3 separate regions of the Homo sapiens genome follow, and regions 1 and 3 are each linked to region 2. Evidence: fine-mapped expression QTL. A gene starts in region 2. Each other region holds a variant in brackets. All regions are shown on one strand. Distances are from middle to middle.

Region 1 (5,682 bases), 61 kb after region 2:
AGGTTGCTTAGTGGTTTGCAAGAGAAAAGAGTGGCAGACTATCAAAGCTGAGGGAATACATGCATGAAGGACAGAGGGATGCAGAACACAGCAAGTGCAGAGGGTGACAAGGAGCTTGGCCTTGCTTCAAAGTGCCAGGAGGAAAGAGTCAAGAGATGAGGCTGAACAGGTAGGCAGGAACCGGAATACCATTAGATGAGACTGTATTGTCCAACATAAGGAGAGAGATATGGTCAGATGACATTGCTGAGGGTCCCTCCAGAGCATGCAGCAGGATGAAGGTGGCTTGGGTGGGGAGCATGTTAGAGACAGGAAAGCATTGAGGGATAGAAAGGATGGTCACCTCCATTCTTCACAGAATTAGAAACAACAACTTTAAAATTCATATGGAACCAAAAAGGAGCCCATATAGCCAAGGCAATCCTAAGCAAAAGGAACAAAGCTAGAAGCATCATACTACCCGACTTCAAACTATACAACAAGGCTACAGTAACCAAAACAGCATTGTACTGATACAAAGTCAGACACATAGAGCAATTGAGCAAAATAGAGAACTCAGAAATAAGACAGCACATCTACAACCATCTGATCTTTGACAAACCTGACAAAAACAAACAGTGGGGAAAGGATTCCCTATTTAATAAGTGATGCTGGGAGAACTGGCTAGCCATATGCAGAAAATTGAAACTGGACCCCCTTCCTTACACCTTATACAAAAATTAACTCAAGATGGATTAAAGACTTATGTGTAAAACCCAAAACTATAAAAACCCTAGAAGAAAATCTAGGCAATACCATTCAGGCCATAGGCACAGGCAAAGATTTCATGATGAAAATGTCAAAAGCAATTGCAACAAAAGCAAAGTGTGACAAATGGGTTCTAATTAAACTAAAGAGCTTCTGCACAGCAAAATAAACCATCATCAGAGTGAACAGACAACCTGGAGAGTTGGAGGACATCTTTGCAATCTATCCATCTGATGAAGGTCTAATATCCAGAATCTACAAGGAACTTAAACAAATTTAAAAGAAGAAAAACTCATTAAAAAGTGGGCAAAAGACGTGAACAGACACTTCTCAAAAGAAGACATCTATGCAGCCAATAAACCTATGAAAAGAAGCTCAACTTAACTGATCATTAGAGAAATGCAAATGAAAACCACAATGAGATACCATCTCACGCTATTCAGAATGGCAATTATTAAAAAGTCGAGAAATGGCAGATGCTGGCAAGGCTGTGGAGAAATAGGAACACTTTTACACTGTTGGTGGGAATGTAAATTAGTTCAACCATTGTGGAAGACAGTATGGTGATTCCTCAAAGACCTAGAACCAGAAATACCATTTGACCCAGCAGTTCCATTACTGGGCATATACCAAAAGGAATATAAATCATTCTATCACAAAGATACATGCATGTATGTGTTCATTGCAGCACTACTCACAACAGCAAAGACATGGAATCAACTGAAAAGCCCATGTCTTTTGACAGGCTGGATAAACAAATTGTGGTACACGTACACCATGGAATATCATGCAGCCATAAAAACGAATGAGATCATGTCCTTTGCAGGGACATGGATGGCACTTGAAGCCATTATCTTCGGCAAACTAAAGCAGGAACAGGAAACCAAACAATGCATGTTCTCACTTATAAGTGGGAGCTGAACAATGAGAACACATGGACACAGGGAGGGGAACAACACACACTGCGGCTTGTGGTGGTAGGGGTGGAGGGAGGAAGAGCATCAAGATAAATAGCTAATGCATGCTGTGCTTAATACCTAGGTGACAGGTTGATAGGTGTAGCAAACCACCATGGCACATGTTTACCTATGTAACAAATCTGCGCAGACTGCACCTGTATCCCAAAATTTTAAATTAAATTGAAAAGAAAACATAGTCATCTCTCTGGTCAGTTCTAAAGGAAAGCATACTGCAGCGATCTGTGATGCTGTGTGATCAGATAGGCTCAAATAGACTGATTAGGAATACATGCTGTGGGAAGTCATATCCATTGTCCCCTCACTATCCACTCAAGTTAACATAATTTAGCTAAGTCTCGTCAGTTATATGAATTCATTATTTCACTCAAAAATGTATACTTGATGCCTGCTTTTCCAGGCATTTTTCTTGGTGATGCAGGTACAGAGAGGAATCCAAAGTGTTCCTATCCTCATGAAACTCACATTGCAGTAGGAAAAAGTTAAAAAAAATAACTTCATAAATAAAATAGTTTCAGGTGGAGATAAGTGCTGTGAAGAATAAAATAGGGTAAAGTGAGTGAGTTTCTGGGCAGAAGATGGAGATAAGTTTAGAAGGATGGTTAGGGAAGACCACTCTGAGGAAATGACATGCAGAAAAGTGAATTGAGGAAGGGAGTTCTTCAATTCATGTTCCACAACACATGGAAAGACCCTGAGGCAGGAATGAGGTTGGTGTGTTCGTGGAAGGGCAAAAGGCCAGGGTGTCTGGAGCAAGCTAGGAGGTGAGTACAGGGAAATGAAGTCAGAGAGAGAAGCTGGGCCAGGGCTGGCAGGTCAGGGTAAGGAGAAAAAGTCCTTGAGGACCAGCCTGGCAACAGAGGCCAAAAGAGTAGAAAGCCTTCTAAGCAGGGGCTGATTTCCTTGGAGGACGGATGTAACAAGAAAGACAAATTTTCTGAGTGGGGAATAAATTCATCAGAGCAACATTCAGTATCTTTATTTAAAAATGACCTGCGAACTCTTGGGCTGATGTTGATCTGCCCTGACTTATTAATATTTTGTGTGAACTTTGAAGGAAAGCAATTCTGTGAATTCCTCCAAGCTGTACCTTTTATGTATTCATTTCTTTCTTCTCTGTAGAAAGGAATAGACAAGGAGTTTTACCTACTGTTCACAGTCTTTGATGAGAATCTGAGCAGATATTTTGATGAAAACATTCAGAAGTTTATCTGGCATCCCTTCAGCATTGACAAAGAAGATAAAGAGTTTGTGAAATCCAACCGAATGCATGGTATGACAAATGACATTCCCGCCTGTAAATGAAAGGCTGACTTGCATTAGAAGTGAAAATGATTGGTGTGTTTGAATTATATTAATTTTGGTTTCTTGGATATTGTTCTTGGTCATGAGTAAGTTATTTCATGCCTTCAGCTTTAGATGGTATGGTGAAACCTCCCTATCTCTCAGAGATGTGAAATTTAATACTTCTAGAGCACTTTATCAGCCTTAGATGAAGGAACACAAATTTTAAACTAGCGGCCAGGCACAGTGGCTAACACCTGTAATCCCAGCACTTTGGGAGGCTGAGGTGGGCAGATCACGAGGTCAGGAGACCAGCCTGGCCAATATGGTGAAACCC[C/T]GTCTCTACTAAAAATACAAAACTTAGCTGGGCATGGTGGTGCGTGCCTATATTCCCAGCTACTCAGGAGGCTGAGGCAGGAGAATTGCTTGAACCCGGAGGTGGAGGTTGCAGTGAGCCAAGTTCGTGCCACTGCACAGCCTGGGCGACAGAGTGAGACTCCGTCTAAAAAAAAAAAAAAAAATTTAAACTAGCCAAGTTCACAGTATATCATAAATGTAGAAAATTACTGACAAACTACTCTCCCTTGGGTTCACAATAACATTAAGTCTGAAAACCAAAGTGACAATAGGAGATAATCATTACATAGCAAAGTGTCTATAATTAAGTAGTATGAATGATTTAATTAAGTAGTATGAGTGACTGGTGAATGTTAATTTGTGAAACACTAGCTGTTCCTATCCCAGATCTTCATTTGAGAGGAATTACTTAATTCTCTCTCCCTGTCTCTTTGTATCAAGTGTTACAATAGCAAACCACCTGCTAATTGCTTGTGAGTAACACAGGATGTCATTACTCTTAGGCATATTACCTAAGGTAGCAGAGTAATGAGAGTCCAAACTCAATGCCTGCAAGAGTGTGCAGTCAATAAAAGTGCCCGAAGCAAGTAACGTAAGACAACAGGTGCTAACCTGCTTGTTTTAGGACCCAGCATAAAATCTATTTATTGCCTTTTAAAGCATTATGGAAGAATAACAAAATAGCCCTTAACCTCCCTTCCTTGCATGGAAGTAAAAAATAGTCCAAGGTTACAAGTGCCCCATGGCAACCAGGTCACAGACCCTATGGTCCCAGATGCTCATTTCCAACAGAGTCCCCTCTTGTGCCAATGGAAAGCATGGAGTAGTACATTTCAGTGTCATCTTCTACAAAAGGTTTTGCTGTAACTGAATATGAATATTGTTTCCAAACTTCTTAGTAGACAATATAAAGGGGAAATTAAGGTGGAAATAAGGAAATATAGCAGTTTCTTGGTGGAGAAACTAAATTGTAAAAGAAATTTATCATCAAAGAGGTTGGTCTTCATTTAAAAAGATAATAAACAACTGAATGAACTACATCAAATCCAGCCCCACCCTATTTTGGCAATGTGAAACTACTTTCATATTTAGAAATACAATATATAGTCCAGGCACTGTGGCTCATGCCTGTAATCCCAGCACTTTGGGAGGTCAAGGTGGGAGGATCACTTGCATCCAGGAGTTCAAGACCAGCCTGGGCAACTTAGTGAGACCCCATCTCTACAGAAAATACAAAATTAGCCAGGTATGGTGGTGTGCACCTGTAGTCCCAGCTGCTACTCAGGAGGCTGAGGTAGGAGGTAGGAGGATCTCTTCAGCCCGGGAGGTTGAGGCTGAAGTAAGCATAATGGCTCCACTGCACTCCAGCCTGGGCAACAGGGTAAGACCCTCTCTCTGTTTAAATAAATAAATAAATAAATAAATAAATAAATAAATAAATATATAAATACAGGATATATCATTGTTAAAACAAAGTTCAAGGCAAATAATGCATCTTAATTCAAATGTCACATTAATTATAAACTAAGTTCTAGCTTCAGTCTTGCTTGCAGGGAGTGGAAGGAAGACAGCAACAAAGCCAAAAAGAAAGGGCCTGACATGGTGCACAATGCTTTGTGTTGTGTTTATTATATAGTCTGTATTCAAAATATGTTTATTGAAAGAAAGAATGGATGAGTGACTGTTGTAGAAAGAGAGGCTTTAAACAAGCATTCCAAGGCAAGAGAAGATTCTCTACCAGCCAGCCAAGGACTGAATTTATTAGCACCTTGATTTATACTCAGATTTCATTAACATTTGATGGACAAGATTTAGATCATTTATTTGCAAAGACATTATCAAAGATTTTTTTTTCATAAAATGTGGTGTCCTTCTCAGAAGTGCCAGAATTTCTTGGAATTTCTACCAATAATCCCAGATCTGAGTACAATTACCAAGCACCACTGGTTTTGCAGACACAGAAATATTAGGATAGTACAAAAGTAATTGCGGTTTTTGCAATTACTTTCAATGGCAAAAACTGCAATCACTTTTGCACCAACCTAACAAAAAGTAATTTTATTTGACAATGGGATTATAACAGAAGGTCACTCATGTGCATGATAATAGTTCCTTCCTGCTATAGGCTTAGTAGAGAGCAGGAGGGGGGTAGAAATATTTATTTCTCCAAGAAACATCAAGCATGAGACACAATTATGTGCATTTACCAGTCAGACATTGCGTTATATCATGGCTTTCATCCCCATGGGGTGAGAATGCGGTTTCTAAATTCTTGTCAAGGCACTTTTTCAGATAGCCACTATCAATGGATTGGGGT
Region 2 (5,682 bases):
CTGGGTTTTAATTATATGCGTTCAGTATCTTGGGTAAGAAAGTTAACTCTTTTGTCTTTTTGAGCTGTATCACTTATACCTTTTTTTTTCTCCTGTCCAAAAAGGGGGGAATATGTCCTAATAACGTCTTTGATACGCCCAAAATAGCCAGCTTCTCTGGGATGTAAGCAACAAGATATTTGGTTTGGGACATTTCCAAATTCCACAACCTTTTTTTTTTTTTTTTTTTTTTTTTTTTTTTTTTTTGTGAGACAGAGTCTCGCTCTATCATCCAGGCTAGAGTGCAGTTGTGAGATCTTGGCTCACTGCAACCTTTGCCTCCAGGGTTCAAGAGATTCTCCTGCCCCAGCCTCCCTAGTAGCTGGGACTACAGGCATGCACCAACATGCCCGGGTTATTTTTGTATTTTTAGTAGAGACAGGGTTTCACCATATTCGGCAGGCTGGTCTCGAACTCCTGACCTCAGGTGATCCACCCACCTCGGCCTCCCAAAGTGCTGAGATTATAGGCATTAGCCACTGCGCCTGGCCAGATTCCCCATACTTTGAACTCCCTACTTCTTCTGAGGCCAACCTCAGGCCTACCACGTAAGTCCTCCTCTATAGTGTCCGTTGAAGTGCCAGACTCATACGAAGCTCCCAAACTCATGTTGAAGAGGAGATTTTAGCTAAATGGAAATGTGCTGTGGCAATTATTCTACCAGTGTCCTTGATACAACAAACAAATCAGTAAATCAAAGTTGTAAAGAGCCTGGCTATGAAACAGGATACTCAGTATGTATTTTATTATTTATTTATTTATTTATTTACTTATTTTGAGAAGGAATCTTGCTCTTGTTGCCCAGGCTGGAGTGCAGTGGCACAATCTTGGCTCACTGCAACCTCCACCTCCCAGGTTCAAGCGATTCTTCTGCCTAAGCCTCCCAAGTAACTGGGATTACAGGCGCCTGCCACTACGCCCGGCTAATTTTTGTATTTTTAGTACAGACAGGGTTTCACCATGTTGGCCAGGCTGGTCTCAAACTCGTGACCACAGGTGATCTGACTGCCTTGGCCTCCCAAATTGCTGGGATTACAGACCTGAGCCACCGTGCCTGGCCTTTTATTAATTAAGATGAATGCTAATACAAACTGTGCTATGGGACATTTATAGGGTAGCTACCATTTAAAGAAAAAGAATTCTCTTACTTGAGACTGGTGGAAGGCATGGCAGATAGGACTTTGGCAAAGAATAGTGGAAAGAAAGTTGAAGACTGCGGGGAAACACAAGTCTGTGGATACACAGGTTGATACAGTCTCTCTTAGAGGGCATGAATGGGCAGGAAGGACTTTAACACTTACTTAGTACCTACCCTATGCTAGGGGCTGGGGTAAGCACTTTGCAGACATCATCTTTTAAAAAGTTCCTTAAGAATCCCTCAATCCTTCTTCTATAGTCTCCAGCTCAATGATGTTAAGTGATTCCTCCATGCCACTAAATTGGAAAGTGGTGGGAACTCACATTCAAACCCAGGTCTGACCAACTTCAAAGGCCAGGAGGCTGTTTCCTTCATTCCATGGCTGCTCCCTCAAGAGTAACTGTGCATGGGGATAAGAGTAACTCTTTTCCAAGGTTGATCAAGGTCTCTTTCAATACCGAGATTCTGGGACACAGATTAGAAGACACAGAAGAATGGCCCAGCCTTTTCCACCCAAAGACCTGTTACTGAATTTTGTCTCCATGTGTCTGAAGGGTACTTCCCCATCATCATTTTCATTCATCCTAAGAAAGGCGGCTCCCTGTGTGGAGGTGGTGGCCGCGAACATTTTGGCTGAACTGAGCAGTCAACCTTCTCATTTTTGCTGGAAGGATTTGAGAGAATATGGGGGAGATGGTACACGAGCCAGTGGAGGATTAGTGGGGTTTTATGTTGTTGTGATGAACTTTATGATGTTAGTTTGTGGTTTCACATAGCCTCATAAAACAAGCTGGATGGTGATTATGTCACTTCCTCTGCCCTCCCGACAGAGAGGAGGCCTTCTTTAGTGCCTGGAGTGTTTCCTGATGCTCCACTCAGGCCAGCTCACTTTTCAGATTTTAATGTAAGAGGTGTGGAGAAGAAAAGAAGAAGAAGGGGTGGGGGAAAGCCATCGGCTCAAGTAGTCACACTGTCATCCTGGCTGACAAATGACTGATGTCAGAGCATGGTACCGAAACGTATAGAAACAGGCCTGTTGGCTTGGGCAATACATAAATGAGCCAGTCACACATTTCTCGGATGGCTGGCAAAAGTTTTGTTGTCAAAGCAACGCCCCCATCGAGCTTGCTTTGCTTACGCAAGGCCTCAGCCTTTGCCTCTTCCCCAAACCCAAGCTACCTGAGGAGGAGGAGCTGAGTGAGGGGGAGGGACCAACAGATTTGTCCCCTGTGCAGGCTGCCTGCCTGCTTGAGTTACATCCACAAATGCCTCGGAAGCAGCCAGCTGGCTGCATCTTTCTCCTCACATTCCTGGGTCTGTCTGGGCTGGTTGGCACAGTTACCAGAACGTACTACATTGGGATTGTGGAAGAATACTGGAACTATGTACCCCAAGGGAAGAATGTTATTACTGGGAAAAGTTTCACAGAAGACAAGTGAGTGAACTTAGGGTCCTCATTGACTCCCAGGTTTGGCCTCTTTTTGACTTTGTGTGGGGAAGGTTGTATTTCTTGGGTACTTACAATGGGGGTGAGTTGATCTAGACCAAGAGAAGGTGTTTTGTTTTTTGCTTGAAGAGCCCTAGTATGGATGGGTGTGTAATCTGGAAGAGATATTCATAGCTCCATGTATTTGTTGAGCCACCTATTAATAGCCTTGCCTGTGAAGGGACATATACACAACCAGGTGTTTGACAATTTCCACCAGGTACTACTAGTAACTTCTGGGGGATTCTGTTTGTTTGTTTGTTTTTAAATGACAACACTTGGGATGAAGATTTGAGAAATTTCAAGAATTCCTTATGGTTAAAACACAGTGTTTTCTTAGTTTGTATTTCTGGAATGAAACATCATAATGGGAGATAAGTATGCTAAGTCATGTTTTTCAACGTTTAAAAGAGGGGGAAGTCACAGGAGATTTGCCTGCTATTTTCAGGGTTTCCTTGAGTCTACTTAGAATTAGCGCTTTCACTGGTAAAAAGTTTATTCCAGCTCCAAGTCATTCTTGCTGAGGGCAATATCTTATCCCAGAACCTATAGCATAGCTAGGTGAGATGGCGCCACGGTGTTCTATGTTCCTGATTTTTAATTTGGGGCAGAAAATAACCCTTTCTCCCTGCCCCCTCCAGGGCCTAGTATCTTAACCATCTAATTTGTTTCATGGATCTCCCTCTGAAGTCACCTCCTGACTCCAGAAGATGTCATGCTATTTTCAACTTTGTGGTTATTAGAACATCTTTTCAGATGTTTTGGCAACCTCTGTTGGATATTTGAATGCTTGCTTCTTTTCTGACAGGCAGAACCAGTTGCATTCTGCATCCATGTTCCATTTCCTAAAGATGAGTTTAGTTGATAAAATTCAGGAACAGCACAGGGCCTACCAGCAAGTCTTTAAGAGCCAGGGCCCCTTGTCTTTGAGGAAAGACCAAAGATCCAGTTGGCTTGGAAATACAGCTTCCAAGTTTTCTAACAAAACAAAGGTGGTATAGTCATGTTTTGTTTACCAAAGATGAAGCCTGTGCCAGACAAGCTGCCAAGGCAGACTTTTCCTTAAGCTTTGTACCTGGAAATGTAATGTCTGCAGGGCTATTTCCAAAGGAAACTCTTGATTGCTTTCAATCCCACATCTGCTGACCATTGGTGGTAGTGTCTTTACTGTGATGAATAGCTATGGGATTGAAAGGGTACCAAAAATGCCAGGAGCCTTCTCTACAAATAGAGCTCTGCTATTCTCAGAGAGGGCTCAGTAGGAAACAGTCAATGTGAGCAGCTACTGGGGATAAGAATGTTGAAAGTGTGTACACTGAGTGTAATGAATATAGCGTTTAAGCTAAATGTGATACTGGATTGCCTTTCCATAAGATTAACACCCACAGAAATTCTTCTTCCTAAAATGCCCACGTCACTATAGCTGTGTATGGGCATTTATTCTGACCCAAAAATTCTATGAGGGATTTTTCAATTCATTACTGCTTGCAGATATTATTATTCTCATTTTATGAACCAGGAACCAAGGCTCTGAGGTTAAATACTTGCCGGAGTTTATAAGTAAGTGGTAGCACCAAACTCATTGCTTTGGTTCCACAGCCCATATTTCTTTTCACCACACAATCTGTTTCTTGGTAAAGGTGATCCTTCTCCAGTGAATTAAAACAACTTTGAGGGAAGCCAAGGATCACAGTAATAAGAACTTTCTAGAAAGTCCTAATTTTTGCCAAAGGCATGTTTAGTCTCTTTTGTCACTCTTCCTAGAAGCATATTGAAAGGGATCACTGGTGGTCAGTGACCAAACAAGTTATCTGGGTTAATTCAAAACCTCAAAGAATCATAAATACTCAAGTACTACAATGCTGTTTTCACAAAGTGGGGTGCTGGAAGAAGTTGGGGTCTCTGTTGATCATTTCAACCAGAAGATGGTGCTTTGATGAAAGTACAATAAAACATATAAAAATTGCTATGGTGAAAAAGAAAATAGGCATGATGAAAACAGTTGGTTTGGCATCAGATTTGAGTGAGATGGTTTCAAAATGCATGGTCCCATATGATAGTGCGTTTGTTCTTAGAAGCAGCTGGCATGCTAAGGTGTCATACCTAGAACGCCAAGGTCCCCAAACATTTCTTTCTGGTATGCGAAGGGACAGAGTTTGTGTCAGACAGACTGCTACCTCTTGGAAGGGAAATCCAGGTGAGTATGCAGTGGACGTTGGCTTTTATCAGTGATCCCATCAGAATACTGGTTTTTATCAGTGATCCCATCAGTGCTAGTAGTTGTGGTAGGTGGCTCAGACAAGTTCCTAAAAAGGTAGGGCTGTCGTAGGTGGCTGACATTGCTTGTGGACCACAAGATATCCATCCTGGGTGTATGTGAAGATGCTGTGACTGGGACATAAGTGGAGTTCAGTGTGTGTACTCTGTGTTGTGCCATTTCCCCAGGAGCAGGAAGGAGCCATCGTGGATGATGTAATCATGCCCCTCTCTCAGCCTCCTGGAGGGTGAATAGGCTGCCTTTCTGAGGACAGTCTGTTGTTTTGGATATTCACACTTGGGCAAATGTCTGATATTTAAAGGACCAGGAGAGCCAGGTGCTCAGAATTCCACCATGAATGGAAAGAACCTGAAATAGAAATCCAGAGACCTAACTTCTAATGCTTGCTCTGCCCAACTTGCTGTGTAATCTTGAACATGTCATATAATCTCTCTGAATATCACTTTCCTTAATTTGTGTAAGAAGGGAGTTGAAATGTAATCCCTAGAGTCACTTGAGAAGTGTAATGCCAAAGCATTAGAAATAATTTTGAAACTGAATGAAAAATATCTTTCCTGACTTGCCAGTTCTAGAAAGATTTTTGCAATGGTGAAAGAAAGGAGAGAGATGATTTGCAAATGTTCAGTCCTAGAAATTAGAGTTGGAGAAGACCTGGGACTGATCGTGGGCATATGTGACAACTTTTGAAGTAGTCTTTATTTTTCTTTCTCCATTTTTTCCCCTGTCCTTTAAGAATTATCT
Region 3 (5,682 bases), 120 kb after region 2:
GGGAGGGGACGCTGTTGTTTTTTAATAAATTCTCTATAAAGCTCACACTCCTTTTTAAAATATAAATATTTATATATGTATATTATATCATTATAAAGATAAAACTTACTGTAGAAAATATGGAAAATACAGAAGAGAAAATAGCAGTACATCTATAATACTACCAGGGATAACTACTATTCTTGAAAAACCAAACACTAAGTCAAGGCCATGTTACCATGTTCCTAAATTGTTGTACATGATTTTTTTTGTTGGCAGTGACATGGAATGTTGTGCACGTGTCAAAATTTAACTGTTTCACAAGTTTTGTAATATAAATAGCATTGTGAAGAACACTCCTGTACATAATAAACCACCTCTCTAAAGATCTCAGTATTTCAAGTGATTGTATAATTCTAATTACAAGGTCAAAGTATACATAGACATTTTTAAGATTTGACTGGTGTGGTTGGGTTGCCCTCTGGATAGACCCCCAATGGATACTTCTCCCCGCAGCTGAAGGAGTGGCTTTCCCCACAGCTGGCAAAAGTTAGTGGATTATCGTCCACAGCTTAATAGGTGAACAAAGGTGTGCCATTGTTTTAAGTCGCATTTATTCAGTTACGGCATTGAATGTTTTTTCGTATGTATTTTTTCCATTTATATAATTCTGTGAATTGTCTGTTCTTATCTTTTGCTTATTTTTCCAAGGGGATGTTGGTTTCTCAATGGGTTTTATTAACTATTTCTATGTTTCAAATATTTTCTAGCTAGCCTTTATTGTATTTTCTTTTCCGGTTGTCCGTTTCCTTTGAATTCTGTTTATGTTAAGCATTTTTGTTTTTTAATTTTTAATTTTTGTTGGTATGTAAAGGTATATATTCATGGGGTATGTGAGATATTTTGACACAGGCATACAATGTGTAATAATCACATCAGGAGAAATTGGGTATCCATCTCCTCAAGTATTTATCCTTCGTTACAAACAATCCAGTTGTACTCTTTCAGTTATCTTAAAATGTAAAATTAAATTATTATTGACTACAGTCACTCTATTGTGCCATCAAATACTGGATCTTATTCATTCTATTTTTATGCCCATTAACCATCCCCATTTCCCCTGACAGCCATCCCTCAGTAACCTTTACAGTATAAGTTTTGATAAGCAGAAGTTATTTTAAGTCATCAAAACTACCCATCTTTTAATTATTTCTTCAGTTGCATTATGATTAGACTGTCATAGCCCATCCTTAGGTCTATCAGTTTTTTAAAATGATCTTTAATGATTTTATTTGAACATTTACCTCTACAGTCTGTTTTGTTCTTTTGGTGCTATAAGTCAAGACTCTAGCTGATAATCCCCCCATTGTCATTTATTGAGGAACCCGTTCGTTATTCATTGATCCTTGATGATTTCCCAATCATATAGTCAACTCAAGTAAGTGAGCCTATTTTTGGGCTGTTTATATTGTTCCACTGGTCTATTAATTTTCATGAAAATACCAGACCATCCATTTTGTCACTGCTTTCATACTGGCTTGTTTTTAGATGTGAGTAGATACCTAGGTAAATTAAAGTTATAAAATATTAGAATCATGACAGGGAAACTGAAGCTCAGCAATCTAAGTGAGTGACTTGCTTGGCACCAATTGTCACATCGCCTTAGCAGATTAATTTCTCATAATATATCAGATATTTAAAAGGCTCTTGAATTATAGGAAGAGCATCATTATCAGCAGGATCCTTACTGGAAACTTGTCAGGCTATCTCACTATTGGACCTTTTAAAATATTGTAGTTATGAGGAACACTATTTTGATATATAATAAATATTTATTTGGTCTTTGGTTTCCCAGCACTCTGCTGATGAGGTCACTGATGGCAGTGGTCTCCTGGATAGCCTTGTGAGCCAGGCTTGTTGCCAAGGGAACCAACTATGTGATTAGAGGGTTGAGACTCTCAGCCCCAACCCCTGACCTCACGGGAGGGGAGAGGGCCTGAAGCCTGAGTTGATCACTAGTGGCTCATGATCTAATCAACCATGCCTGCATAGAAACCCAGGGAGAGGGTTCCGAGGGCATCCACGTTACATCCACGCTGGGAGGGTTGTGCATCCCAACTCCATGGGGACAGAAGCTCCTTCACTCAGGACCCTTCTGAACCTCGCTCTGTGTATCTCTTTACCTGTCTGTTCATTTGTATCCTTTAAAAGATCCTTTTTCGTAAATTGCCAATAGTAAGTAAAGGGTTTGCCTTAGTTTGTAAGTCACTCTAGCAAATGAATGAACCATAGGAAGGGGTTGTAGGAATCCTCAATTTATAGCTGGTTGGTCAGAAGTTCTATTACTGCTGTTCTTGTAATTGTGGGAAGCTGTAATAAATAATGGATGGGCTAAATAGAGTAGAAATGCTTTGAAAAAGATTACAACTTCCAGATCGGTTCAGAAAGTGGTGAATATTTCAGTATGAAGGATAAATAGGCTATACATGGACTTGGTGCTTCAGCTAATGAGACAGGCCCATTCATGGGTACCCCATGGCTGTCCTGGGGTGCTCACTGCATCAGCCCCAGGAGGTCCCCTCACCTTACTGCTGGTGTGGCAGTGGAGGGAGTTTTCCAGGTTAATTTTAATTTGCCAAATGTCTATATATGTCGAAGTTCAGACAGTAAGAGGAAACATTAAAGCCCTGCCCTTTTTTATGGACACACCTCAATCTCAGTTTCTTCCCCAGAGGTAACTACTGTTCCTGTTTAGTGCATATTCTTTTACAGTGCTCATTTTTTTGCAGTTTGCTCATTTATCTTTAATATGTCCCAGAGATATCTTCATGTTAGTGCATGCAGATCTGCCTCATCTTTTTAAATGTGCCACAATTTTCCATCATGTGACTATACCTCAATTCATTTAACCGTCTGTTTATGGGCTAGTATGTTCATTCCACTTTTTCCTACTACAAACAGTGGTTTAATGAACATCCTTGCATGTGCTTCTTTGTGCAGAATGTGTTTCTCTAGAGCCGTGGTTCTCAAACATTTTGGTCTTAGGACCCCTTTACACCCTTAAAATTTCTTGAGAATTCCAAAGAGATTTTGTTGTCTATTGGTATTTATCATATTAGAAATTAAAACTGACAGA[C/T]TTAAAAATATTTATTAATTGATTTAAAGTAAACCCATTACATGTTCAGGTATAACATATTTTTATGAAAAATAATTATAAAACAAAAACTTAGTAATAAGAATAGCATTATTTTCTATTTTTGAAAATCTACTTAATATTTCATTTCATAGTAGATGACTGGATTCTGGATTCTCATTCATTATGTTGTAATATCCCACATCAGTAGCCCCCAAAACTGCACTGCATACACTCATGAGAGAACGAGAGTAGAAAGGTAAGTAACAACGTAGTATCGTGAACATAGTTTTAATGTCGTGAACCTCCTGAAAAGGTCTCAGGTTTCAGGGTTTCCAGACCACATTTTGAGAACCGTTGTTCTAGTGGGGTTTGAAATCAGAGGGACAAAAGTTGTGCACATTTTAAATTTAAAAGACACTTTCAACTGCCTTCCAGAATACCAGTTTACACTCCCATCACCAATATAGGCCAACCCCGCCCTACTTCTTTACCAATGTTTAATACTTTCAGAGTTTTAAATTTGCCAATCTTAATGGTTAAAATGCCATCTCATTGTTTTAGCTTGTAGTTCCCTATTTACACTGGGATTTCATGAGACACACATTTCTGGGCTCACTGTGACACTTGGCGGTGTCTGGTGACTGCCCCCTCCCTCCCCAGTGCCCACCTTTTTCTTTGGCCTGGGATGTTTGATCCTAGAGAGACTGACAGGTCTCCGCTTGTTTTCCTTGGCTTATGAAATACCCCTTCCTTCTGAAATCCATCTTAACTATTTTTTAATTAATTTTTTTAAGCTAAAATGTTTTTTTCAAAAAACCCTAGTTGTTTCACTTCTGAGCCCTCTGTTTCCTGTTTACATTTAGTCAACTAGCAAATATTATTTATTAGGAAATGTGAATAATGATTAAGGCATGAGTTATAAAGCCAGACTTCCTGGGTTCCAATTCTGGCATGGCACACATTGACTGTGAGACCTTGGACAAGTTACAGAATTTCTCAGTGCCTAGCCTCCTTGTCAGTAAATGGGGCAGTAATAGAATTCTCACCTGTGTCACAGGGTGAGAATTAAATAAATTAGCGCTCGAAGCACTGGAACGGTGTCTGGTACGTAGGAAGCACTCAGCGCAGGTTAGCTGCTAAACATCCCCTAATCCTGTTTTGGCCCTTTGACAGGTGACGACCTGGGGCTGCTGGGGTTGGGGAATGTGTCTGGGGCACACAGAGTGGGGCTAGAGTGCATTGCTCTTTCCAGAGCCTGGGTTCTCAGGCACTGCTGTGTGCTCTCTGCCCCTTCCTGTCGTGTGTCTGCGGGACACAGGACTGCGTGGGGCAAGCTCACAGCCCAGCTCAGAAGCTGCTGGTTTGTGCTGGGTCTCCGGCTCTGCTGCCCTAGGATTATCTTCCCTACCCCTTGGATTCCTGCTGGGGAGGGTGCCTAGTCTGTTAAGCGCCACCACCAACCTCACCCTCAGTTCAGCACTGCAGCCTCAGCTGGTCATTAGGAACATGGGTGTATGGATTATAGTACCACTGGGGACTTGAAAACACAAAACACAGCTCCTCACCCTCACCTACCAAGCCCTCCTTGCCTTTACTCATAAATTTAAGTCTGGACTTCCCAGTCTGTCACCCCAGGATGTCCTTTATCTGACCCCAGCTTGACTGTGTGCTCCAGACACAGTGGTCTGCTTCCTGTCTTAAATGGGCTGTCAGCTTTAAGGACTCAGTGTTTTCTTGCGCTGTTTTCCAAGCCTAGGTTCCCTTCTCTCCTCCTTTGAGTACGAACATTTGTCATGGTTCAGTCATTACCCTTATGTGATTTGTTTTCATCTACAATAATTGGTGGTTTATATCCTTGGCTGCCTCCACTGGACTGTAAGCCCTTGGAGGGCTGAGACCAAGTCTTCTTTATCTTTGAATCCCTTGCATTGCATATGGTACCATGTACATAATAGCCCAGTGAATGCTTTTTGGGTTAAGCGCCACACAGTTGAGCTGAGTGCCTTAGGGAGAATACCTGTGCTCTGTTGCCCCGTGTAGAAACGGGAAGAATGGAGCCCTGGGGAGGGCGTGCTCCTGGTATAAAGGCCATGTGGCATTAAATACCCAGCTCTGATGAAAAAGTGTGGATGTCCCTTTTCTTTTTTGAGGTTCCTTGAAAAAGTGTTTGCCACTCTAGCATCTGCATCTGTCATGAGTTTTTGTCTATTTAGAATGCCCTTGTTTGCAAAGAGATCTCATGACCAGTTGTCTACATAATAGTAACAGTCATTGTAAGTCCTTTTCATGTTGCCAGAGTCACTAATCTTTGTTTCAGTACTGAATTTAAACACTCAAGGCCTTGTCCTACACAAAAGGGTTTCTTTGTCGCAAGAACTACAAAATCCAGCTTTTAAAAGGCATCTTTGAGGGAGAGATGATGCAGAAGGACTTAATGAAGTTGGATCTAGTTTCAGGCTGTGGCCCCTTTAAATCTAAGATCCCAGTTATCCAAGGAGGCCTGCTTTCATGATGTGTTTGCTCTAGTATTGTAGAGGATAAGACAGATGGGTAAACAAATAAATATG

Which allele goes with the higher level. Alleles are on the strand shown, and positions count from the first base shown. SD is a standard deviation of normalised expression in the study named. Not every link is listed here.
As copies of T replace C in region 3, the expression in kidney cortex of the gene that starts at base 2,428 in region 2 goes up (large effect, 1.0 SD a copy in GTEx).

What was found. PIP is the estimated chance that this variant, and not a neighbour inherited with it, causes the effect. A credible set is the group of variants that fine-mapping cannot tell apart.
Region 1: its variant is the best candidate, but not a certain one, in a credible set for the expression of HEPHL1 in sigmoid colon (GTEx, PIP 0.76).
Region 3: its variant is the best candidate, but not a certain one, in a credible set for the expression of HEPHL1 in kidney cortex (GTEx, PIP 0.52).

Annotation. Positions count from the first base shown.
Region 1 is chr11:94,079,572-94,085,253 of GRCh38, forward strand. It overlaps HEPHL1 (hephaestin like 1), which reads left to right. Exons shown (of 20, transcript NM_001098672.2): 10 at 2,847-2,997. Among named protein-coding and RNA genes, the nearest start is that of PANX1, 46 kb to the right of the region's middle. The variant C/T (reference allele first, on the strand shown) is at 3,346.
Region 2 is chr11:94,018,927-94,024,608 of GRCh38, forward strand. HEPHL1 (hephaestin like 1) reads left to right here and starts at 2,428. Exons shown (of 20, transcript NM_001098672.2): 1 at 2,428-2,612. The coding sequence starts at 2,443.
Region 3 is chr11:94,137,685-94,143,366 of GRCh38, forward strand. All of the region lies in intron 1 of PANX1 (pannexin 1), which reads left to right. Among named protein-coding and RNA genes, the nearest start is that of PANX1, 12 kb to the left of the region's middle. The variant C/T (reference allele first, on the strand shown) is at 3,116.